Linked DNA regions of Homo sapiens. The protein of the gene in region 7 purifies or fractionates together with the protein of the main gene of each other region. This does not show direct contact. Each region holds a gene or a part of one and is shown on either strand. Other genes may lie near its edges.

What was found.
Region 1: the proteins of BRPF3 (region 7) and ZFP91 purify together in Homo sapiens (affinity purification with mass spectrometry, with the first as the bait; one large-scale study listed by BioGRID). This does not show direct contact.
Region 2: the proteins of BRPF3 (region 7) and PHF8 purify together in Homo sapiens (affinity purification with mass spectrometry, with the first as the bait; one large-scale study listed by BioGRID). This does not show direct contact.
Region 3: the proteins of BRPF3 (region 7) and WRAP73 purify together in Homo sapiens (affinity purification with mass spectrometry, with the first as the bait; one large-scale study listed by BioGRID). This does not show direct contact.
Region 4: the proteins of BRPF3 (region 7) and TRIM56 purify together in Homo sapiens (affinity purification with mass spectrometry, with the first as the bait; one large-scale study listed by BioGRID). This does not show direct contact.
Region 5: the proteins of BRPF3 (region 7) and PPFIA3 purify together in Homo sapiens (affinity purification with mass spectrometry, with the first as the bait; one large-scale study listed by BioGRID). This does not show direct contact.
Region 6: the proteins of BRPF3 (region 7) and ARID4B purify together in Homo sapiens (affinity purification with mass spectrometry, with the first as the bait; one large-scale study listed by BioGRID). This does not show direct contact.

The regions. Positions count from the first base shown.
Region 1 is NC_000011.10:58,606,563-58,610,062, forward strand, and holds part of ZFP91 (E3 ubiquitin-protein ligase ZFP91), read left to right. Parts: intron 1-3,267; coding exon 3,268-3,477; intron 3,478-3,500. UniProt on the Homo sapiens protein: Atypical E3 ubiquitin-protein ligase that mediates 'Lys-63'-linked ubiquitination of MAP3K14/NIK, leading to stabilize and activate MAP3K14/NIK. It thereby acts as an activator of the non-canonical NF-kappa-B2/NFKB2 pathway.
Region 2 is NC_000023.11:53,936,474-53,939,973, forward strand, and holds the end of PHF8 (histone lysine demethylase PHF8), read right to left. Parts: intron 2,774-3,500; coding exon 2,685-2,773; 3' UTR 1,587-2,684; coding exon of another isoform or gene 1,508-1,586; 3' UTR 207-1,507; downstream 1-206. UniProt on the Homo sapiens protein: Histone lysine demethylase with selectivity for the di- and monomethyl states that plays a key role cell cycle progression, rDNA transcription and brain development.
Region 3 is NC_000001.11:3,643,604-3,647,103, reverse strand, and holds part of WRAP73 (WD repeat-containing protein WRAP73), read left to right. Parts: intron 1-321; coding exon 322-438; intron 439-3,500.
Region 4 is NC_000007.14:101,091,981-101,095,480, forward strand, and holds part of TRIM56 (E3 ubiquitin-protein ligase TRIM56), read left to right. Parts: 3' UTR 1-3,500.
Region 5 is NC_000019.10:49,118,205-49,122,343, forward strand, and holds the start of PPFIA3 (liprin-alpha-3), read left to right. Parts: upstream 1-1,339; 5' UTR 1,340-1,518; intron 1,519-4,139. Other genes in the region: LIN7B (protein lin-7 homolog B), read left to right, coding at 148-169; putative uncharacterized protein C19orf73, read right to left, coding at 429-818. UniProt on the Homo sapiens protein: May regulate the disassembly of focal adhesions. May localize receptor-like tyrosine phosphatases type 2A at specific sites on the plasma membrane, possibly regulating their interaction with the extracellular environment and their association with substrates.
Region 6 is NC_000001.11:235,318,180-235,321,679, reverse strand, and holds part of ARID4B (AT-rich interactive domain-containing protein 4B), read left to right. Parts: intron 1-3,500. UniProt on the Homo sapiens protein: Acts as a transcriptional repressor. May function in the assembly and/or enzymatic activity of the Sin3A corepressor complex or in mediating interactions between the complex and other regulatory complexes.
Region 7 is NC_000006.12:36,210,244-36,213,743, reverse strand, and holds part of BRPF3 (bromodomain and PHD finger-containing protein 3), read right to left. Parts: coding exon 3,216-3,500; intron 2,487-3,215; coding exon 2,184-2,486; intron 1-2,183. UniProt on the Homo sapiens protein: Scaffold subunit of various histone acetyltransferase (HAT) complexes, such as the MOZ/MORF and HBO1 complexes, which have a histone H3 acetyltransferase activity.

The DNA.
Region 1 (3,500 bases), on a different chromosome or scaffold from region 7:
TATGATATGAAATTTAGGATACAAATGATCCCATCATGCAGGTACTGAGCATAGTACCCAATAGTTTTTCAACCTCCCCCCAATAATCTCCAGTTTCTGTTGTTGCCATCTTTATGTCCATGAGTACCTAATGTTTAGCTCCTACTTTGGTCTCTGTGGTCTCTAAAGGTTCTGGTCCTTTCGCTTATATTCATCAAGTGATTTGACAGATTTCCTTAAACATCTTTACTCACCTTTTTCTTGATTCAGTGCTCACTTGGCTTTTATAACCTTTAACTATTGTTAAGAGTTTCCACAAAGTTGATTCTGACAGTGTTTGTTCATGATATGTGTTTATTTCTGTGGAGGGACATTTTTGCTGTCATCTCTGACAGAGTGGTTTTTTTTTAAGACTAGATTTTTAGGGGACGGGAGCAGTAGTATTCAATAAGATAGGCTATTATGCCTTATTCATAATGGTAAACTATTGTTATCAAATTGGCATCATTTATCCAGTGAGTAAAATCTACAGTATAGGAGGTTGTGGGCATACCATCCTTTCATCATGAAGAAGAAAGGAGCTTTGTTGAGGACAGGAGGTTATGGAGTGAGTTCAAAGTCCAACTCGGTACAGTTGGGTTAAGGAAAAAAAAGATGTGTCTATTATTAAATGTTGTAATACTTCATAGGTGGTGTTGAATTGTTCTTTTTGATGAAATTGTTTTAAAAGTAGTCATGACCTATATGTAAAAGTCCTTCATTATTAATCTCAAAATATGATTTCTAAATCTAGGTGTCCTTAGCTAACCTTGTGATTTTGAATAAGCTTCTTTTTTGGGCTTCCAGATACTTTATGGGTAAAACGTAATGGATTGTGCTTAGACTGAATGGCCTTTGAGGTATTTTCACCTATATTAATGTTTTATTTTTTATTTTTTCTATTAAAATAGCTCAGATAGGAGGGTGATGCAATAATGAATGGAAAAAGACAGCTGAAAGGAAATGCACAACTGATTTTGATGGTTGTTTAGAACTGTTCGCACTGCTATTTATCTCTGTGTTTCAAACTAATTTCATTACTTCAGTATATTGTCATAAAACTTTCAGTGTAATTAAAGCTAAAATAGCCTATAGTCACCACATTGCTCCATAGTAAACTATTTTTTAATGTTAAGCAAAAATGTTGCCATACTGTATATATAGTTTTGTGTCTTTTTTATACATTTAACAATATTTTTGCTGATAATTCCATGTCATTTTTAACATAAACCTACCTCTATATAGTATTCAATCATACTAAGGTATCATGGTTTATTTAAGCACTTTATCTTTGACAGAGGGTTAGGTTGTTTCTGTTCTTTGCTATTATAAACATAATACAGTTAACCTCCATGTGGTAGTTTATATTTCTAGGGCATATACTTAAAGGTGAAATTACTACACATATTTTTGGACCTACCTTGGAAGTAACCAGTACTTAAGAATTTCTTGTACTTCTTCCAGAAATGTTATTATAGTATGTAAGATATATATATATACACACACACACACATACTGTAATGACTAATGTGTAGCACTGTTTTTAAGTAGTAGAAGAGTAGACAACTAAACATTCAAAGGGGGATTGGTTTCATAAGTTATATATTTGTGTGTATATATATCTTACATATATATCTCTCTCTTACATATGTACACAATTATTTGTGAAACCAATCCCTCTTTGAATGTTGTTTTCTACTCTTCTACTACTTAAAAACAGTGCTATATGTTAATCATTTATAAATATGATTGTAATTTTGTAGGATAAATTTCTAGTAGTTGAACATCATGTGGAAAGGTATATACATTTATAATTTTGATGTATATTGTCAAATTGGTCTGCATGGAGGTTTTGCTAATACATTATCATATGTGTGTTAGAGGACCTGTTTTCCCACAGTCTTGACAATACATTATGTTGTCAAATATGATCATCCCCAATATGATACATGAAAAATGGTGTCATGCTATCGTTTTCATTTGAGTCTCTTGTTCTGAGTGGATTGAGCTTTGAGCTTTTGTTTTTTGTTTTTTCTTTTTTTGGAATGGAGTCTTGCTCTTTCGCCGAGGCTGGAGTGCAGTGGCGCAGTCTCAGCTCACTGCAACCTCCACCTCCCGGGTTCAAGTGATTCTCCTGCCTCAGCCTCCCCAGTAGCTGGGATTGCAGTTAGGCACCACGACGCCTGGCTACCTTTTGTATTTTTGGTAGAGACGGGGTTTCACCACGTTGGCCAGGCTGGTCACAAACGCCTGACCTTTTGATCTGCCCGCCTTGGCCACTCAAAGTGCTGGGATTACAGGTGTGAGCCACTGAGCCCGGCCTGTTAGTTCCTATTTTTCTATTGGGTTATTAGACTTTGTTTATGGTTGATTTTTGCCATGAGGAAAATTGTTTTTATGTGTATCTTATGACCTGAAATTTTGTTTTATTATTGGGCCTTTCCCGTTCTGAGTTTATTAAAGAATCTTCTATTGTTAAAATGGGCTCAATTCTAATGTACTTTTTTTTTATATAGGTCTAAGTATTTAGCTACGCCAGGTATGAAAGCCAGTTTCTGAGATTAACTTTTTATTACTTACTACTCAAGAGAGGATGACCTACCGTACTTCACCCTTAAAACATGACAAAATATAGGATAACAATAACAGATTTGTGTGTGCTCCTGTACACAATGTCTTATAGGACAACTGAAACAGAATAGCACCAGAGCTGGACTTTACCATTCAATTGCTCTATAGATTAGTTCAAATTTATGGTGTGGTTCCAAGAAAAACTCTTGATTAGAGTGAAAAGTACTCCTGTTAGGAATTCCTCTTTAGTAATTTGTTATAGACTTGTTTGGTTGTAAATAACATCTAGATCTATGGTTCTTTCTTTTTGGTGCCTCTGTAGTTCTGGTCATCTTTTTGGGACTAATTAATTTAGTTTCTTTTAACTTAGATCTAAAAGGTAGAATTTCATGAATCCAGTTACTTAAGTGTATTTTGCATAGTTAGCATTGCATTTTTTAGAAGATAAGGCAGTATAAAATTACTACTTTGCAACATGAAGTAATTTCTTTAGCATGATGACATTAAGGATAAGTTTTATCTCATTTTCCTTTTTTTATTATTTCAATTAAAGTCTTCAGTTTTTTTTCCTTTGAAAATATTTAATTTATCTTCAACTGTATTTACAATTAGTAGATATACAGGGATGGTTATTGGTTAACTGTAAACTTAAAGAGAATGGTATGTCTTTTTATTTAGATCCCAAGGAAGAAAAAGAGGAAGAAGACGATTCTGCCCTCCCTCAGGAAGTTTCCATTGCTGCATCTAGACCTAGCCGGGGCTGGCGTAGTAGTAGGACATCTGTTTCTCGCCATCGTGATACAGAGAACACCCGAAGCTCTCGGTCCAAGACCGGTTCATTGCAGCTCATTTGCAAGTCAGAACCAAATACAGACCAACTTGATTATGGTACAGTGCAACTAGAATATGGC
Region 2 (3,500 bases), on a different chromosome or scaffold from region 7:
TCTGATGATCTACTTCAGGTGTGTGAAGCGTGTCCCTCCTGAGGGTGGGAATACCCTTCCCACTTCAAGCATAAGGCTGAGCACCAGGGAAATGCCTGACAACTTGCTGAGGGAGAGACAAAGAGTACAAGGAGAAGGCAGCACTCCCAGACCCTGCACCACACCACCACCCTCATCACAAAAAAAAAGAATGCCAAGCAAAGCAATTGCCAAGATAAATCACTTTTATCTCTATAGGAAAGGGAGGATCTAAAAAAAATATAAATTACATTAGTAACACAACATAAGAAAAAGACAGGGACAAAAACAACAGAGAAGTCTGAATGATGCTACCCTAACCTATTTATAAAAAGGCCCTGCATCAGAAATTCACAATCCTACCCACTTCTAAAAATATATTTAGACATGTACAGAAGCGGTGGGCTTGTTTTTAAATTGTTTGCTTTTTTTGTAAAAATATATTAAAGGTGAATAGAAATCCTCTCTCCCTTCCCCCTGTCCAGCCCCCAGCTAGGGACTGGAGATCAGGGGTAACTATCTCATGGTGTTCTAAACCTTGATTACTAACACTCCCAACCCCTCCCCAACTCACTTCACTTAGAACCTGAAACATTAAAAAAAACAAAAACAAAGACATCAGCCTCTTTGGAAAAGCATAACTCTGAGGGTAAACTTGCTTTTCATTGGAAACAACACAAAACAACAAACAGGGGGCTCTAAGAACCCAACTAAGCTAAATGAAACCCAGTCAAACAGAGGCTGGGTTTCAGCTCCACAGAAAACTTCTAACAAAGAAATAGAGGGAAAAGGCCGGAATCGGGGGGATTTGCTAGCAATTAGCTGCCTTTGAAAGATCAAGAAGGGGTGTTAATGGACAAAAGGGCTGGGGACCTGATCTTGGTTACAGCAGTCACCGCATAGTCAGGCAGTTGCCTATACAGGACAGAGGCTTCTCCTGCTCTCCCCTCACTACCCTCTGCTGCCTTGAAATCCCCAAAATAAGCAAAGCTGGGCAGAAACAGAGGGGAGGGGAGTAGGGACTCACGTGCTAGGGGGGAGGTAGCCAGGCTTTTTGCCTTTGGTGTGACTAGATGGAGAACTGCTTGGCCCCTGGGGTCCCCAAGGTAGAGAAAGCAAATGGGCTAAAGGAACCCCTGATTCCAAGGAAGGAAAGTAGAGGCAGGGCTATGGAGAAAAGAAAGACAAACTGGAGATACAAAGATGACAAAAGAAGCCTCACAAATTCCCTGTGGCCTGCATGGTAGCTATTAAATTCCCCAGAAGCATTGGGCAAGCTGGGGTGAGGTTGGAGTGGGTGGTACAGGTGGAAAGGGCAAGGGTACACTCCACTTGGGTAGTGCCAAATGGAGGTGGGGGGATGTTCTCCATCGAGTCCAGATTGCCAGTGAGGCAAGGCGGTGGGAGGTGGGGGCACTGTCTGGACAATGGAGACAATCCACGAAGGAAGGACAGGGGAAGGGGAGGATCGGATGGATGGTCTGCTCCTTCACGGATGGGCGTCTCTTCTCTTCAACTTGGGCTCGTGAATGGCCTGTCTGCATTCTGCTTGAACGATGACCTGTCGTCTGGAAGTGCAAAGGCCCAGGAGTGAAGATGTGAGTCCTGAGGTCTTCTTCAGACCAAGACCTCAGGTGGAGAAAGAAGCATGAAAAGTTCCCGATGGAGGACCCAGGTGTGGGCCGTCCCGCCACACCCTCCATAATGTCCAGGCTGTGCTCTGTGGTATAGGCGGAGCAAGCAGGCTGTAGGGCCAGGGTTATCTGCGTCATTGGCAGGTGCTTTCAGGTTTCTGGGAGATGGTTTTCCACCTGCCAGGGCCCAGCCACAGCCACAGCCACAGCCACGTGGATAATGTTCTACATGATTTCAAAATCCAGGCAAATCCCTGGAGCTCACCCTAAAACAAGTGGCCTCATGTGTAGCCAGCTAAAAGTAGCTTCCTCCAACAGGCTACAAAACCGTGGTCAAAGGCTTGGGCATCTGACCTCTCCCTACCTTGACAAGTGATAGGAATCACCTTTCTTTTGAAAGGTAAGTGAAGTTGGCATTTCTAGGCCACTTCTGGAAATGGCCCACAGTGGGGCAGGAAGGAGGCTCTAGGCCTTCCTCTTCATTTCCATGAAGCATTTGGCAAGAGGGGGCAGAGACCACAGCCTTCTCCCATGAGCAAGTCTGGAGGTGGGGCATGTCCACTGGACTGGGGAAATGGGGCAAACAGAATGGGTGGAGGTGGGCAGGCTTCTGGATATAGGGCTAGAGTTGCAGAAAGTGTCAAGCACTGGGCTTCCCACTTCATGGCTCAGGCTCCTTCATACCTCTCCTCATCCTGCCTTCCAGCTCTAGCGGGGGATGAAGAATAAAGAACAGACAAGGCAGGTGACGGGAGTGGTTTGGACGAGTAGAAAAGAGGGTTCTAGTCAGCTGGAAACCTCTCCCATTTACCTGCTCCTCAGTGGAGAAGGCAGGCAGGATGCTCTAGTGAAAGTGGGGAAGGGAACTAGAAGGAGTCGGTGGAGGGGTCCGTGCCTTTGGTAAGTCCCAAGAAAGCAGGACAATGCACCTCAGCACCTTGTCCAGGGCAGATAGGATCCAGGAGTGCCCCAAGAGTTGACAATGGAGAAGGCAATGGGGGTAAAGGGGTGAGGGGTGGGACACAGGAGGGCTCACAGAAGTAGTTTGCCATTTCTGTGGATTTTCAGGATACGGCCGAGTCTCTGCTTTGCTGTGGCCAGGCCCTTTTTGGGACGCTTTCCTGTGGGGGAAGGGAAAAGTAAGCAAGGGCTTTGGCAAGGGCTTCAACATCAAATCTGGCACCAACTGCCCTCAGGCCACCTCCCCTTCCTGTTTCTCTACCCACAAAGTTTCTCCATCCTTAGACCATATTGGGCAGGAAGCCCTCCTTAACTACTTCCAACCAACACCACATGCTTTGACTCTTCCTCCTATGACCTCCTGTAGCAGCAAGACTCCCTGATTACAGTTTGTCTAGTTCTTTTTCTCCACTGATTACTCTGGTCCCAATCATTTTCCTTCCAAGATCCTGCAGGGAGGTAAATGTACTTCCATACCCTCTTATCCTACCCACCAGGACTGGACAAGTGCCTGGTTAGTGATTAGAGCTCAGTGTCCCTGAAGTTGCCATCCCTAGGGCCTTGCTTCATTAGAAACTCTCATCTTCATCAGCCTTCAACATCACACCAACCTCCATGCCCTTGAGCTGCGTACTCTAGGGACTGGGCTTTGAGGACCAAAGTGAGGGAAAGGAAGGCTTCAGTCCTCTAACTCTTTGTTGTCTCTGTCTCCCCACATTAAATCCCCTCCCATGTCCTATTTGACTGCCTCCATATTTGATCAGTTCATCTCCTTCCTCTCCATTCCCTCTGGCAGAGCCCCAGGTACTCTTCCTGCCTGCCTGAACTTGTATATGTGCCTCCTCCCTAGAGTTCCCATCTCTAGCCCACCCTCTACCTCCTTCTGGC
Region 3 (3,500 bases), on a different chromosome or scaffold from region 7:
AAATGAGGTCTTAGGAATGACAATGTGAATAAACAGTTTTAAAACAACAACGAAATGAAATCACCAAGAAGCGTGGCTTACTTTTACACTGGAATCCAGCACCAGCCCTTCATCATGAAAGGTTCTAAAAGACACCCTGTGTGATCGGGTCTCTGCTGGTTTTAAGGGAGTTGTCTCTCGGCGAGGCCTCGCTATAGACTGCTGATGAGTTTGAAGACACCCTGTGCGGTCGGGTCTCCGCTGCGTTTAAGCGAGCTGTCCTCGCTGTCTCTCGGTGCTGATGAGTTTGCACTTGTGTGTTTCTTTCTTCTCTCAATCCAGGTCTGGTCTTTAGAGCAGCCCGAATGGCACTGCAAAATAGACGAGGGCTCAGCCGGGCTGGTGGCCTCGTGCTGGAGCCCGGACGGGCGCCACATTCTCAACACCACGGAATTCCATGTAAGTGTCAGCCCCAAGACACCTTACTGGCCATGTGATCCTGTCCTCTGCTCTCGAAACAGCTGGGGAGTGCGAGAGGGGGTGTGTTTGGAGTATGCTAGTCTCCCCTTATCCTCAGGGGATGCATTCTAAGACCACCAGGGGATTCAGATTGTACCAAACCCTGTATTTCCTGTGTTTTTTCCTATACAGCATACCTGTGATACATTTAATTTATAAATTAGATACAGTAAGAGATTAGCAACAATCATAGTATAGAACAAGGATAACAATATACTGTTTATAATTGCATGGATAGAAGATTTGGTCTTACTGAAGATCTGAGCAACAACCTCAGCATAGGATTTTTTCTTTCCTTGTTGCGTCAAGAACTTTCAGCTCGTCATTTAAAGGAAGCACTTTGTGGCTTCTCTTTGGCGTATCCAGATTGCGAGCCCCACCGCCCGTGCTTTGGGCTGCTACTGAGTCAGATAAGGGTGTCGTGAACACAGGCACTGTCTGCTGCCCTGGGTCTGATGACTGAGGTGGCTCCCGAGTGGCTGGTAGATTGGCGGGGTTGGAGGGAGCCGGGGAGCGTATATAGTGGTGTGTATATTTTAGGTCAGAGCATTATAAGCCACTAAGTATTATTGTCTGATCTTTTGTCCAGTTTTGAAGAAAAAACATTTTAAAAATCTTAATTTAGATTTTTTAGGATTTCGGCACTCCCTTTAATTCAACGATAGAAAATGCGCTGTGATATGAGCCGGCTCGCACCTTTCCTTCAGGAGCCTGGCCTGGGGGCGTGGCTCGGGGCGGTCGGCAGCCGCCCATTCACCTGCTGTAGGTACCGCACAACAGCCTCCGTGCTGAGCTCAGCGCGGAGGGGAATGTTGACATCCGAGAATAAATCAGAGGGATCTGGGATAGGAGACTGCATTTTAAGTTAAAATTAGGCATATGTCAAGTGTTTAGATACCAGGTCTTTGGTGTCCGCAGTGTCTTTTTAAGATACAGAAAAATGGACGAATTCCTTTAATAATGTGCTTTTCTGATGGAGTTGGATCCCAGTGTTTGGGCCCAAGTCCACTGAGTGCTCATAGCTGTCTGGGCTGCTGGCTGCACCTCGGTAACCCGCCCATCCCGCTGCGCCGCGCACACCACGGGGCAACCCGCCCATCCCGCTGCGCCGCGCACACCACGGGGCAACCCGCCCGTCCCGCTGCACGGCGCACACCACGGGGCAACCCGCCCGTCCCGCTGCGCCGCGCACACCACGGGGCAACCCGCCCGTCCCGCTGCGCCACGCACACCACGGGGCAACCCGCCCATCCCGCTGCGCCGCTCACACCACACTGCAGCCCTCCCGTCCCGCTGCGCCGCGCACACCACGTAGATGATGGCACCTGGGAGGATTTCTCCCAGCGTGTGGCTGCAGATGCTCTGTAGGGTTTCATTCGGCTTTTTTCAAGCTGGCATCGGCTGGGATAAAGTTTTATCCAGCCATGAGGGTTGCTGAATCAACTGCTTCAGATGGCTGGATGGCTTTACATATTTTTCAGTTTCGATTTTAAAAAATACTCCAAATCTAATGTCTGCTATTATGGGCTGTCAGAGAATAAGACAGGAAACAAAGGCCCACCAATGTCTCCGCACTATGTATTGACATTGGAAGGCACTTTCGGCCTGAGTGTTTCAGAGAGGATAATTTGAGCTTTTCACGCAGCCGTGTCTAACAGTCTTCAGGCCTGTAATGCTTTGGGCCCAAATCTGCCCTTGAGAAGGGCTCATGTCATGGGGTCAGCCTTGTTGTATTATCTTATTAAATGGCCCAGAAGGAAAACTACCATCTATAGAGTTTAGAAACCTTAAAAGATGGATAAAAGCCTGGTTTTGTTGAGCATCCCATGTCACACACACCAATATTGAAAACACCTTTGCTACAGAACAAACTGATTTTTCATAGAGTACATTTAGATGACATTGTTCAACCTAAGACTAAGGTCATGACCACTTTGCTGGTGGCCTTAGAGGAAACGTTAAGACCAGGTGGTGGATGAGGACCGGTAACCTCAAGGCATGGGGCATCTTGACCAAGATGTCAAAATGTGTCTCCAGCTTTGCATGCGAACTTTAATGGTTGCAAGTGAGGAAACAAAACCGGAATTCCAGACGTGCTGGCCAGGAAGTGAGCTGCGGGCACCGTCCATCAGTCTCATTCACAAGAGCAAGGACCAGACCCGTTCGAGGATTAGCGGGGCCACTAGGTCCCCTTCTGAAGGCGCGACCCCATGTCCGGGGCTCAGCGGGGCCACTGGATCCCCTTCCGAAGGCGCGACCCCATGTCCGGGGCTCAGCGGGGCCGCTGGGTCCCCTTCCGAAGGCGCGACCCCATGTCCGGGGCTCAGCGGGGCCGCTGGGTCCCCTTCCGAAGGCGCGACCCCATGTCCGGGGCTCAGCGGGGCCGCTGGGTCCCCTTCCGAAGGCGCGACCCCATGTCCGGGGCTCAGCGGGGCCGCTGGGTCCCCTTCCGAAGGCGCGACCCCATGTCCGGGGCTCAGCGGGGCCGCTGGGTCCCCTTCCGAAGGCGCGACCCCATGTCCGGGGCTCAGCGGGGCCGCTGGGTCCCCTTCCGAAGGCGCGACCCCATGTCCGGGGCTCAGCGGGGCCGCTGGGTCCCCTTCCGAAGGCGCGACCCCATGTCCGGGGCTCAGCGGGGCCGCTGGGTCCCCTTCCGAAGGCGCGACCCCATGTCCGGGGCTCAGCGGGGCCGCTGGGTCCCCTTCCGAAGGCGCGACCCCATGTCCGGGGCTCAGCGGGGCCGCTGGGTCCCCTTCCGAAGGCGCGACCCCATGTCCGGGGCTCAGCGGGGCCGCTGGGTCCCCTTCCGAAGGCGCGACCCCATGTCCGGGGCTCAGCGGGGCCGCTGGGTCCCCTTCCGAAGGCGCGACCCCATGTCCGGGGCTCAGCGGGGCCGCTGGGTCCCCTTCCGAAGGCGCGACCCCATGTCCGGGGCTCAGCGGGGCCGCTGGGTCCCCTTCCGAAGGCGCGACCCCATGTCCGGGGCTCAGCGGGGCCGCTGG
Region 4 (3,500 bases), on a different chromosome or scaffold from region 7:
GGTTTCACTGTGTTGGCCGGGCTGGTCTCCAGCTCCTAACCGCGAGTGATCCGCCAGCCTCGGCCTCCGGAGGTGCCGGGATTGCAGACGGAGTCTCGTTCACTCGGTGCTCAATGTTGCCCAGGCTGGAGTGCAGTGTCGTGATCTCGGCTAGCTACAACCTCCACCTCCCAGCCGCCCGCCTTGGCCTCCCAAAGTGCCGAGATTACAGCCTCTGCCCGGCCGCCACCCCCTCTGGGAAGTGCGGAGTGTCTCTGCCTGGCCGCCCATTGTCTGGGATGTGAGGAGCCCCTCTGCCCGGCTGCCCAGTCTGGGAAGTGAGGAGCGCCTCTTCCTGGCCGCCATCCCATCTAGGAAGTGAGGAGTGTCTCTGCCCGGCTGCCCATCATCTGAGATGTGGGGAGCACCTCAGCCCCGCCGCCCCGTCTGGGATGTGAGGAGCGCCTCTGCCCGGCCGCGACCCAGTCTGGGAGGTGAGGAGCGTCTCTGCCCAGCCGCCCCGTCTGAGAAGTGAGGAGCCCCTCCGCCTGGCAGCCGCCCCGTCTGAGAAGTGAGGAGCCCCTCCGCCCGGCAGCCGCCCCGTCCGGGAGGGAGGTGGGGGGTCAGCCCCCTCCCGGCCAGCCGCGCCGTCCGGGAGGGAGGTGGGGGGTCAGCCCCCGCCCGGCCAGCCGCGCCTTCCGGGAGGGAGGTGGGGGATCAGTCCCCGCCCGGCCAGCCGCCCCGCCCGGGAGCGAGGTGGGGGGCGCCTCCGCCCGGCCGCTGTCCCGTCCGGGAGGTGGGGGGTCGCCTCTGCCCGGCCGCCCCGTCTGGGAGGTGAGGAGCCCCTCTGCCCGGCCACCACCCCGTCTGGGAGGTGTACCCAACAGCTCATTGAGAACGGGCCATGATGACGATGGCGGTTTTGTGGAATAGAAAAGGGGGAAAGGTGGGGAAAAGATAGAGAAATCAGATTGTTGCCGTGTCTGTGTAGAAAGAAGTAGACATGGGAGACTTCATTTTGTTCTGTACTAAGAAAAATTCTTCTGCCTTGGGATGCTGTTAATCTAAGACCTTACCCCCAACCCCGTGCTCTCTGAAATATGTGCTGTGTCCACTCAGGGTTAAATGGATTAAGGGCGGTGCAAGATGTGCTTTGTTAAACAGATGCTTGAAGGCAGCATGCTCCTTAAGAGTCATCACCACTCCCTAATCTCAAGTACCCAGGGACACAAACACTGCGGAAGGCCGCAGGGTCGTCTGCCTAGGAAAACCAGAGACCTTTGTTCACTTGTTTATCTGCTGACCTTCCCTCCACTATTGTCCTATGACCCTGCCAAATCCCCCTCTGCGAGAAACACCCAAGAATGATCAATAAAAAATTAAAAAAAAAAAAAAAAAAAGAAAACCAAGAAGATGGGAAAACCATGCAGAATTGATTTGACGAGGAAAGCCTTGGTCTCTAATACATGCAATGACTAGAACAGTATTTGGTCAAAGAACCACATAAGCTCTGTACCCTGGAGGAAATGTATGCAGGCAAGGACTAGTAAAATAAAAAATAATAATAATTAAAAAAAAAAAAAAGAAAGGCTGGACGCGGTGGCTCACACCTGTAATCCCAGCACTTTGGGAGGCTGAGGTGGGTGGATCACCTGAGGTCAGGAGTTTGAGACCAGCCTGGCCACTACGGTGAAACCCCATCTCTACTAAAAATACAAAAATTACCCGGGTGTGGTGGCGCATGCCTGTAATCCCAGCTACTGGGGAGTCTGAGGCAGGAGACTCGCTTGAACCTGGGAGGCAGAGGGTGCAGCGAGCCGAGTTCACCCCATTGCACTCCAGCCTGGGTGTCACAGTGAGACTCTGTCTCAAAAAAATAATAAATAAATAATTAAATCCACTTGCAGTGGTCAAAAATAAATGTTAAATAAATGGGTGAGAAATCTTGCGGAGAAATAGACTCCTGGCACTATAAAAATGATCCTGGAGAATAATTTGGCTAGACTTTGCAAGAATGACAAAAATGATTATAAGAATCAGTTGTCTCACTTTGGGGAATACATTCTGGGAAAATAATGTAAGAGAAAAAATATTTGCATACAGACATTTGAGGCTGCTCTGTATATTACAGGCAAGAACTGGAAACTGTTCGGCTGCAGGGTGACAGCTAACTAGATTGTGGTTTATTAGGGGAATGAGCCTTTCTTTGTGTATGACAACTATGAAAACTATTGAGAAGAAATAGTTACGTGATACAGTCATAATCCTCAAAAACGGAGAATCAGGAATTATGATCAAATAGTGATAGTAACAAGGAAAACATCTGTCTAAATAATTACTGAGTAGAAATAGGTTCGGAATTTGTAAATAGTCATTAATTTGGGAGATTGGGGTTTTTTTTGTTTTGTTTTTTGTTTGTTTTTCATTATTTTGTGCTATTATTCATACGTGTACATTTCTACTTCAGTTTTTATTATCCATTACATAACATACATGCTTGATTATTTGCTTCAAGGAAATACACCTTTATAAGTAATACTCAATAACTACTGGGTTTGAGAATGAAGGTGTCAGAACGAATGAGATTGTCCTATGAAAGAAGAGGCAGGAGCCAGGGAGGAGGATCCCACCCGGCCGGGGCTCAGCCAGGAGGCAGGGCCATTGGGGCAGGGTGGCAGTCCAAGGAACCGCTCTGGGAAGGTTTGCAAAGGTCGGGGTCCCCCCTGCCAGGTGATCGAATTATCGTGGAGTGTCTGGAAGGCGGGGGAAGTTTTGTTGAGTTCACCAAATAACTCAGACCAACTGGAAACCAAGTGGAGTTTCTACAGGACCAACTAGAATAGGGATCAGCTACATGGGGGCGGGGGGAGGGGGGCAGGGAACGGTGTCTGTCTTCATTGCAGCTCTGTCTGCAGAGCCAGCACTGTGATACCTCATAGTAGGTGCTCAGTGAATGTCTGTGAAGTGAATTACTATCTAGACAAGGATGAGACTGGTATGACTCTCCAAAGCTTTCCCACCTCCAAAACCTCGGCTTGTGGGGAATCTCCAGTAGGGGGCACTGTGGACACGGTTCGCATCTGCCTCCCAAGGCTGGGCTCCGCGTCAAAAAAAAAAAAAAAAAATGAGACTGAGCCAGGTGCAGTGGTCACTCCTGTTATCTCAGCACTTTGCGTGGCCAAGGCGGGAGGATGTCTTGAGGCCAGGAGTTCAAGACTAGGCTGGGCAACATAGCAAGACCCCATCTCTACAAAAAAATTTTTAAATTAGCCAGAGGTGGTGGCATGCACCCGTAGTCCCAGCTGCTCGGGAGGCTGAGGCAGAAGATTGCTCGAGCCCAGGAGTTCAAGGCTGCAGTGAGCTCTGATTGTGCCACTGCACTCCAGCCTGAGTGACAGAGCAAAACCTGGTTTCCTAAGGGGGGGATAAAAGAGGGAGAGATGAGATCGGGGTGTCCCGCTTCTGTGCATGTGGAGGGGGTAACTGGGAACCGTGTACTGTAGGGGATCGCACACCTTGGG
Region 5 (4,139 bases), on a different chromosome or scaffold from region 7:
TTCCTTCCATCCCAAGATACGGAACCTACTGTGGCTGGGATCCCTCAGCCCACTTACCTGGGCCCTTGCCTCTGCAACCCCAGTCCTGCCCCTCTTGTCTACCCGGAGCCTCCCTGATCCCGGGTCCCTTGTCCACCCCCCTTGCAGGTCCTTGGAGTCTCGAGGTTGAAACCACAGATCTGGACGTTCACGTGCACTCTCTTCCTGTACAGTATTTATTGTTCCTGGCACTTTATTTAAAGATATTTGACCCTCACTGAGTGTCTGTGTGTCTGTCCTGCATCCCTGGGTTGGTGTCTTGAGATGTGGAGGGAATGCGAGGAGCTGAGGTCAGGCCAAGCCGTTGAGAAGCCTTTTCCAGAGTCTGAGAACAGAGGTTAAGACCTCTCCCTAGGTCTGAAGGCGGAGACAGGCCGGCTTCCAAGAGACTAGTCCGAGGGCGGAGGGCGGAGGCAGGGACCCAGTCTGGGTCTGAGTGCTGGGGCAGAACTGAGGACAACGCTGCCTACCCTTAAGAGCGTCTGAGGGCGAAGGCCAAGTCCCTTCCTCCAGAGTCCTGAAACGCAGCCGGAGCCAGTGGGCGGCCTCTGTGTGGGCGGGGCGGAGCGAACCATTAGCCTCGTCCGCCGGGGGAACCCTGCAGGCCGCACTACTGTCTGCGTGGGAGTCGCGGGTGGGGGTGCCGCGTGCAGTTCCCGAGGCGGGCGCAGGGGTGCAGAATGAGGTGCCCTCGCCCACCGGGCGCTCACTCCACCTTCCAAACACAGCGCGTCTTTCCGGAAGCAGCCCCCGCCTTGAAATCCAACCTTTAGCCTCATCCCGCTGCCCGCCCAGCCCTCGTGTCCCGTGCGGCGCGAGGGCTAGTGCGCGCCACTGCCGGGAGCCGGGGTCGCGACTCGCGTTCCACGCCGCGCGCTACTCGCTCCAGGTGACATCATCCCCCTGCCGGGCTCCGCCTCCCGCCCCAGCCGCCTCACGCCGCGTGCCTATTGGTCGACGCGCCTTATGCCCCGCCTCTCGCTCTCCGCCCGCGCGACCCCTCCCGGCCGGTGTGGAGGCGGGGTCTAGTCGCCGGCCGGCGCCGACGCTCTCTCCCATTGGCCGCTCTTCGCCGTCTGTCAGTCTCCTGTTAAAGGGGCCACGACCGCCCGGGAGCCGTGGGGGGGGAGGGGGAGGGAGGAGGAATTTTTTTGGGGGGAAGGTGGGATTTGGGGGGCGCTGGTGGGCACCCCTGGATCTGGCGGCTGCGGCCTCGCGGGGGGAGGCTGATCGGTGACAGGGGCAGGGGGCTATTTTGGGGGTAGAAGGCAGTGAGAGCGTGAGGGGGAGGGGGGTCCCCAGCGCCCAAGCCGGAGCCAGAGACGCGGAGCCCGCGCGAGCGTCGGAGACAGGGCTCCAGGGCTCCGAAGCGACAGAGCCGGGCCCCGGCCGCTGCCAGGGGCCCCGCCCGGCCCCCCCACTCCACCCCACGTCCCTCCTGCAGCCCAGCTCCGCCCGCAGCCGCCGCGGACCAGGCAGGTAAGAGCCCGGCCCGGCCCTCCTGGCAGCGCCCACCCTGGGGACCCCTTGGCGAGCCTCCCCCGCCTCCCCGAGATCCCGGATTCCCTTCCTCATCCCAGGGGACCCCCGAGCCCAGATTTCACACCCCAACCCCGGGGACTCAGGCGTGCCCCTCCCGGCGCCCAGAGTCCCCGACCGAACCCTAGAATCCCGGGCGCACCGCCGCCTCGCGCCTCCTCCAGGGCCCAGGAGCTTGGATTTCCCGGTCCGGCCCCGGGACCCCTCCTAGAGCCTAGATCCCCCTTCCTGACCCTGTCCTGGGAGCTCCAGACACCCGCCGCGGCGGTGCCAGACTCCCCAGACGCGTCCGCATCGTCCCCGCTTCGCGCACTCCGTCTCCCGTCGCCAGCCTCGGGCTTGCACAGCCGGCTGCGTCCCACGGTCCAGGCAGGCTCGGCGGCCGCCCTGGACACAGGCCCGCTCTGGAGCTGTCCATGGTCAGCGCGCTCGGCAGCCTCGCCTCCCCCCACCTCCTGCCGCCGCCACCAGGGAGGGGGCGCAGGCGGCGCGGGGATCCCCCCGCCGCGCCTTTGACCCGGGAATACCCGGGCCCTCCCCGACCAGGGCGCCCCAGCCTCTGGGTTCTGCCGGCCAGGCTCGTGGCCCCGTCCTCGGCACCCCAGGTTCCTGGGACTCCAGCTGCTCCCTGAGGATCCAGGGCTTCTGAATTTTCCTATTCTGGTCGCCGTGGGGACCATGGCACCCGGGGATGCAGCTCCCACCCCGTTCGGGAAGCCTGTCCGTGTCTACACCTCTGCTGGCCCCAGGTGGTAGCCCTCACCCCGTCAGCACCTAGGAATCCTGTTCCCCAGCGTTTGCTCTGCTTAGAACCCCGCTGTGCCCTGCAGACACACAGACTTAGCCTCCTGGCACCCAGCATCTGCTCCCCGAGGGACTCAGGCGCCATGACTCCTTTCCTTTGGGGGACCCGGAATGTGATTCTCAATGCAGTTCTCTGACTTCTGTTCACACTCCCACTTGGGGACCTAAATGTCTTGGTCCCAGTCTCCTATCCCCTCAGGGACCCAGGAGTTCAGACCCCAGCTTCCGTACTGCCCACCAGCTTTTACTGAGGCTGTCTGCCTCAACCCTCTCTCCAAACAAGACCTCAGGCTCTCACCTTCCAATCCCCCATCATTTACCTCCACAAGGATTCAGGAGTCCAGGCTCCCAGCTCTGTCCACTGCCCTCCCCAGCAGGTATCTAGTTTCTCAGGTCTCACTTTTAGGAACCAGGTCTTCACAGCCTCATCACTCTGCCCCATCAACTTCACATCTCCTGTGGCCCTACCAAACCCCTGTCTCATCCTCATGTCACCCCAGGTGGCGGGCTTCAGGACTCTCTACTCTTTCCCCTAAGATGCAGCTTGTTGAGATGTTTCTAGCACTCCATTGCCCCCTGAGGCTCAGATGAGTTCCCCTTCTCCAAGTACACTCTCCCAGGCCAATGAGCCGAACACACATCACCTCCTCCAGATGTATTCTGTGGCCTGGGCTCATAAGGAGATCTAGAAGCTACCTGCTGCCATACAAATTTCTTTCTTTCTATTTATTTATTTATTTATTTTGAGACAAGGTCTCTGTTGCCCAGGCTGGAGTGCACTGGCACAATCACAGCTCACTGCAGCCTCCACCTCCTAGGCTCAGGTCATCTTCCCACCTTAGCCGCCTGAGTAGCTGGGACCACAAGCACTCACCACCAGGCCTGGCTAATTAAAAAAAAATTTTTTTGGCCAGGCGCGGTGGCTCATGCCGGTAATCCCAGCACTTTGGGAGGCTGAAGCGGGCGGATCACCTGAGGTCAGGATTTTGAGACCAGCCTGGCCAACATGGAGAAACCCTGTCTCTACTAAAAATACAAAATTAGCCAGGCGTGGTGGCACATGCCTGTAATCCCAGCTACTCAGGAGGCTGAGGCAGGAGAGTCGTTTGAACCCCGGAGGCGGAGGTTGCATTGAGCTGAGATCGTGCCACTGCACTCCAGCCTGAACGACAAGAGCGAAACTCTGTCTCAAAAAAAAATTTTATTTATTTATTTATTTATTTATTTTTTGTAGAGATGGGGGTTTCGCCATGTTGCCCAGACTGGTCTGAAACTCCTAGGCTCAAGGGATCCTTCTCTGTTGGCTCCCAAAAGTGCTGGGATTACAGGCATGGCCATCGCGCCTGGCCGGGCCACATTTCTTGTCGCACATGTGCTCTTGCATTGCTCCATGTTCTAGATTCCTTCTAAACACCAGAACACTCCCAGCTGATGTCTGTTCTGTGTTCCATTTTCATTCCAGGCATGGTCTGAGTTCTAGGCCAGATGCCAATTTTTTTTTTTTTTTTTTTGAGACGGAGTTTCACTCTTGTTGCTCAGGCTGGAGTGCAATGCTGCGATCTTGGCTCACCACAACCTCTGCCTCCCGCGTTCAAGCGATTCTCCTGCCTCAGCCTCCTGAGTAGCTGGGATTACAGGCGCCTACCACCATGCCCGGCTAATTTTTTGTATTTTTAGTAGAGATGGGGGTTTCTCCATGTTGGTCAGACTAGTCTCGAGTTCCCGACCTCAGGTGATCACCTGCCTCGGCCTCCCAA
Region 6 (3,500 bases), on a different chromosome or scaffold from region 7:
AAAAAATACAAAAAATAGAAATTAGCCAGGCTTGGTAGCGGGCGCCTGTAGGACGCTGAGGCAGGAGAATGGTGCGAACCTGGGAGGCGGAGCTTGCAGTGAGCCGAGATCACGCCACTGCACTCCAGCCTGGGCGACAGAGCAAGAGTCTGTCTTAAAAGAAGTAGAATTCAGGACCTAGTAACTCATCCTGGGGTAGGAAGAAGATGGAGGTTTTTTTCTTAGGAAATTAGATAGATGTTACTGTCATTTGAAGCATGCTGTCATTGGACCTGCTAGTTAAGATGTAAGAGTAAGTAGGTAGGATGAAGTCAGAGGCTTGGTTAATCTGGTGTGAATGTTAACCTCATATCTATGATATTTGAAGGGATTTAAGATCCATAACATGGCAAATTTTGTGCTATAAATTTGTGGTCCTTTAGATGAATAGGTAATCTTGTAAAATACTAACATGTTTTCTGTCCAAATTGCTAAATCTTTGTTTATTGTAATTAAAAAAAATACTAGGTGAGTACCTATGTCACTGAAGAATGTTTTTGCCAAGTCAGCCAGTGAATTCAGTCATTGAACACATTGTGTACTTTCCTTGTACCGGACATTGTTCTGGGTTTTGAGGATGCAGCAGTGAATAGAACAAGAGTTCTTACCCTCGTGGAGTTTACTTTCTACTATGGTGGACACACGTTAAGAAAAAAAATAATGCTAAGTGCTTTGAAGAGAAATGATACGGAATCAGAATAAGAGGTTAGAGTGACAGAGGGTGGGTTACTTTAGATTAGGTGATAATGGAGGGCCTTTTCGAGATGACATTTAAGTGTGCTGTGAAACAAGTGATAGAGTGAGCCATTCAGGTTTCTGGGGGAGGAGCATTCCCTGCAGAAAACAAGTGCAAATACCCTGAGATGGAGTGTGCTTGGCATGTTTGAGTGTGATACATTTAAGGAACATTAAGGCCATCAGGGCTGGAGTGGTAGGAGAGGAGGTCAGAGAGGGTCACAAAGGGCCAGTACAATTGTAGGGCCTTATAGGACATGGTAAGGACTTGAGTAAAATCTGAATGTGTTAGGAACCCTTTGAAGGGTGTTGAGTGAAGTGATGTGATAAACATTTTCAAAAATGTTTGACTGCTGGGTAGTGAACACATCATGGGTTCGAACAGATCATGGGAACACAAGAGTGGAAGTAGGGAGATCAGTCAGAAGGCTGTCAAGCTAGTCCTGGGGAGAGATGGTGGTGAGGAGAAATAGTAGTATTGGGAATATATTTGAAGATGGGGATGATTGGATTTCAATGGATTGGGTGTGAAGGGAAAATTCTACTTACTGCAACTTGCACATGTATGTCCTCCCACAAGTGCCCTCCCTCCTTTTCTTTTGAGACGGAGCCTCTCTCTGTTGCCTAGGCTGGAGTGCAGTGATGTGATCTCGGCTCACTGCAGCCTCTGTCTCCCGAGTTTAAGTAATTCTCTTGCCCCAGACTCCCCTGTAGCTGGGATTACAGGCACCTGCCACCACGCCTGGCTAATTTTTTTTGTATTTTTTGTTTTTTTTTTTTTAGACGGAGTTTCGCTCGTTACCCAGGTTGGAGTGCAATGGCACGATCTCGGCTCACTGCAACCTCTGCCTCCCAGGTTCAAGCGATTCTCCTGCCTCAGCCTCCCAAGTAGCTGGGACTACAGGCATGTGCCACCATGTCTGGCTAATTTTTGTATTTTTAGTAGAGACGGGGTTTCACCATGTTGGCCAGGCTGGTCTCAAACTCCTGACCTTGTTATCCACCTGCCTCGGCCTCCCAGAGTGCTGGGATTACAGGTGTGAGTCACCTCGCCCGGCCTTTTTTTTTGTGTTTTTAGTAGCAATGGGGTTTCACCATGTTGGCCAGGATGGTTCTGAACTCCTGACCTTAAGTGATCCGCCCGCCTTGGCCTCCCAAAGTGTGAGCCACTGCACCTGGCCGTCCTCCCTTTTTTTAAAAAAGTCTTTTTGCTGTGATTAGTTGGTAGATGGGATTCTTGGAACTGAGTATGACCATGAAGGCATTGTCAAATCTTAGCCTTCTCAGTGAGCAGTGAACATTGAGTTGAGCAATCCTTTCACTTGTTTTTTTAATTAAAAAAAATGAGATATAATTCACATACCATAAAATTCACCCTTTTATTTTATTTTTTTTGAGACATGGCCACAGTCTGTTGCCCAGGCAGGAGTGTAGTGGCGCAATCACAGCTCACTGCAGCCTTGATCTTCAGTGGGCTCATGTGATCCTGCTTCAACCTCCCAGGTAGCTGGGACCAGAGGTGCACGGCACCATGCCCAGCTAACTTTTAAATTTTCTGTGGAGGTCTCACTGTGTTGCCCAGGCTGGTCTTGAACTCCTGGGCTCAAATGATCCTCCCATCTTGGCCTACCAAAGTGTTGGGATTACAGGCATGAGCCACCGCGCCTCACCAAATTCACCTTTTTAAAGTGTTCATAAATTTCTAGTATTTTCACAAGTTTGTGCATCCATCACTACTATCTTTTGAAAACTTTTTTGTTAATTTCTTTTGTTTGTTTTTTTAGAGATGAGGTCTTGCTGTGTTACCTAGGCTGGCCTTGAACTCTTGTGGTCAAGTGATCTTTCCCCCTCAACTTCCTGAGTAGCTGAGACTTCAGGCACGTTACTTATCCCTAGCTATCTGTCACTGCTATTTAACTCCAGAACATTTCCAAATTCCCAACAAGAAACTTCTTATCCATTAGCAGTCATTCACTGTTCTCCCTTTCTTTTATCCCTCCAGTAACTAATCTAAATTTTTTTTTTGAGAAGAGTTTTGATTCTGTCACCCAGGCTGGAGTGCAGTGGCTCGACCATGGCTCACTGCAGCATCGACCTCCTGGGTTCAAGCGATCTTCCTGCCTCCAGCTCCCAAGTAGATGGGATTACAGGTGTGCGCCACCATGCCCAGCAAATTTTGGAATTTTTTGTAGTAGTGAAGTCTCACTATGTTCCCTAGCCTGGTCTGGAACTCCTGAGCTCAAGTGATCCTCTTGCATTGGCCCCCAAAGTGCTGGGATTACAAGATTCAGACACTGAGCTTAGCATTTACTTTCTGTCTATAAGGATTTGCGTATTCTGGGCATTTTCTGTTAACGGAATCCTGTAATACATATGTGGCCTTTTTGTGTCTGATTTCTTTTACTTCCCATAAGTGAAAGAAGTAGCAAGTGTTGACCAGGCGCGATGGCTCACGCCTGTAATCCCAGCACTTTGGGAAGCCGATGTGGGTGGATCACGATGTCAGGAGTTCAAGACCAGCCTGGCCAAGATGGTGAAACCCCATCTGTACTAAATAAAAAAATTAGCCGGGTGTGGTGGTGGGCGCCTGTAATCCCAGCTACTCAGGAGGCTGAGGCAGAGAATTGCTTGAACCTGGGAGGCAAAGGTTGCAGTGAGCTGCGATGGCGCCACTGCACTCCAGCCTAGGTGTCAGATCAAGACTCCGTCTCAAAAAAAAAAAAAAA
Region 7 (3,500 bases):
GAAGCAAAGAGAAAGGAGGATTAGGTTTTTTTTTTTTTTCAGAGACAGGATCTTGCTCTGTTGACCAGGCTGGAGTGCAGTGGTCTGATCACAGCTCACTGCAACCACAAACTCCTGGGCTCAAGTGATTATCCTGCCTCAGCCTCCAAAGTAGCTAGGTCTATAAGCACACACCACCACACTTGGCTAGGCTAATTTTTCAAAAAAATTTTTGTAGAGACAGGGTCTTACTGTGTTGCCCAGGCTGGTCTCAAACTCCTGGCCTCAAACAATCCCCCTGCCTCTGCCTCCCAAAGTGCTGAGATTACAGGGATGAGCCACTGTACCCATCCCCAGGAGAAGTAAGTTTTATCTACACTAGTAGTTCTCAACCCTGGCTATGTATAAGAATCACATAGGAAGTTTCTTAAAAATTCCAATGCCTAGGCTCCATCCCATACCAACTGAAACCAAATTTGTAAAGATAGGGTATTTTGTTTTTTAAAGCTTACCAAGTGAGTCTAATGAAGTGAGGATTGCAAACCATTGCTCTACACAAAGAAAGCCACATGCTTAATCAATAAATAGGTTAAGTCTCAGCTTGACAGATTAGGTATCTACAATTCTCACTGGACTCAAGAGTTTTCTCATCTGTCAATCGATTTTATTTCACATCACCCAAGTAAGAACAAGTACAGCAGGCAGAAAAAGTTCACAAATGTGAAAAACGAGACCAAGTAAGTTAAATCAGTGGTTGCCAAACATGTGTGCTCACCTACCACCTTGAAACTTTTTTTTTTTTTTTGAGACGGAGTCTCGCTCTGTCGCCCAGGCCGGACTGCGGACTACAGTGGCGCAATCTCGGCTCACTGCAAGCTCCGCTTCCCGGGTTCACGCCATTCTCCTGCCTCAGCCTCCCCAGTAGCTGGGACTACAGGCGCCCGCCACCGCGCCCGGCTAATTTTTTGTATTTTTAGTAGAGACGGGGTTTCACCTTGTTAGCCAGGATGGTCTCGATCTCCTGACCTCATGATCCACCCGCCTCGGCCTCCCAAAGTGCTGGGATTACAGGCGTGAGCCACCGCGCCCGGCCGAAACTTTTAAAAATTGAGACTTCCAAGCCAAAGCCCAGACATCCCTAACTGAATCTATGGGAGGTGAGGCTACACCTTTTTTTTTTTTTTTTTTTTTTCTAGGTGATGCTGTTGGCCTACTGGGCACAACTCTGTACTGCCACAGCCCCAGAAGTAGGGATACAAATGGCATGCTGACTGTCATACGGGGAGTCCAGAGGAGTCACAATGGACATAAAAGCCCTCTGATGTCAAATGTGATCTCTCAACTATGTCTCCATTCTCTGCCAACCTAAAATAAAATGGGCTGTTACCTACAATTTGGGCCCCTATCCATTGGAAGTAACTTCCAGCCTTTTCGACTGTGTGCGTGACAGGCCCTCCCAAGCTATAGGCTCGGATCCGAAGGCAGGTATGAGGGAGACAATTCCATCCCCAGTGAAGGAGAAGAATGAGAAGCAGCTTAGCTTATAAGGTTCCTGGGTTTCTGAGAGTCACTTCCCTGGCTGTCTTTTCTTCTTTTTTATTTTTATTTTTTTGTCTTTTCTCAAGATCAAGAAAAACTGTGGAAACCAACTATCTTTTATAGTCTGGCCTCTCTACTTGAGATGGGCCTGTAGATTCAGCCAGATGGGGTAAAAACCATGAGGTGGCTCAAAAGCCCAGGGTCTTTCCTTCTCTGCTATCACCTCACACCCCAACCTAACCTGCTCTAGAGTCTCTCCACGTGATGTTACAAGGTAGGCTGATATTTAACTGGTATGTACAATACGGCTGTATCAGGTGCAAAATACTGACATACTTAATTGGCTAATAAACAGCTGCTGGGCTGCAGCACCTGAAACTCCCCACAATCCAGCAACTAAATATCCACAACAGGGGCCTTTGGGAGCCCACTCCAATATAACAGCCAACATCTACTGAGATGGATAAATTTTAGTCTCTAGTGATTGTTAAATATTTTGAACATCATCCCTGCGTATACATGGAAGTGTGGCCCTTCCAAGCACTTTTGCTTGCCCACAAGTGTCAGATCTAAACTCAGAAAGAATACCCCCATTATGATATTTCAGCTTAGCCTTTGTCCCTCTTTACCCTCCAACCCCCTGCCTGCCTGTGACTATCTCTCACCTCTGTCCCCATCGTCTTCTGGCTCCTCCTGCAAGGCCTGCTCCAGCACAGCTGCATCCCCCTGGGGCCCTGCTGGCAGCTCCCCATTGGATACTGTCTTGTTGAGTGATGGTGGCTGTGGTGGTGGTGGCTGTGCCAGCTTCTGCCGAAGGGCATTGATCTCCCGGCGTAGCAGGCGGACACGACGGGTGCGGGCCCCACTGGACCGCATGGCGCTCACCAGGTCCAGTTTCTCCAGCAGCTCCTTCAGCTGCACCTCTGGGGACAAATGGGCCCGGTTCTCTGGGATGAGGATGTTGTCCACTGCCAGGGAGAAGGGAGGACAGAAGGGGCTGAAGGACCTGCCCAGCACAGGGCAAGAGAAAGGGGCCGAATCCTTCGGATGCAAAACTCTCTCTTGGAATGCCTGGGCCAGCAGCTTCCAGCAGCGTCACTGTGGGCCTTGGCCCTGCAACACCACTGCCCAGAAGGCAGCCACAGGGGCAAGGTCAGAATCTGGGAAACGTCTGCAGGAAGCAGTTCACAGTCACGATTATGGGCTCCATGGAGCAGGCATGAGGCAGCTTGGCAATACCCTGGCCTGAGTGACTGGCTGCTGCCATCGAGAAGCAGAGAGCAGGGACAGGCAGCGTGTGGGGCTCAGAGGCAATTCCATTTTTCTGGTCCTCCACCTGCAATCTTCTGAATGAGCCAAACACACACCAGCAATGCACTCTCCCTGTCCCATGCTCCAATGCCATACAGAGGGGATCCAAGAGAGGAAGACCTCTGATGAGGCTTTAAGCTTTTCAAACAGACCACTAGTACCTGATTCCCCTTTTCTACCACTTAAGAAGTGCAGAGTACATTAGTTAAACTTTAACCCTTAGAACTATTCTAGCCACAAAGGTATACCTCAGTCTGTGCTCACCCTCAGCTTTGCTCCTGGAGTCTACCTATAGCCCCAAGGACCACCCTGATCCCTCACTCTGTAGACTCTGTTCCTGTGCCTCCTCCTGGCCCCTCTCCTCCCCACCCATCCAGGCCTCTCACCGTCTTCCCAGGAGAAGCGGTAAAAGTCTTCCAATTTGGGTGACTCGGGCAGGTGAGTGCCCCTCTCGGGGTCATAGCCGATGTTCTCTGCCTGCCGCCGGGCGTGCCGTAGGATGGCCCCTCCCAGGTCCCGCAGGCGGACAGCTGCTCGGTGGAAAATTGTGTCTTTAGCATTATACTTCATGCAGTTGGTAACTATAAGGTTAAAGTCCTCCTCAAACTCCTCCAAGGTGCGGTACAGGTGGGACTCCAGCTTCCGCCTCATAGTAGAAAAATCCATTGGCT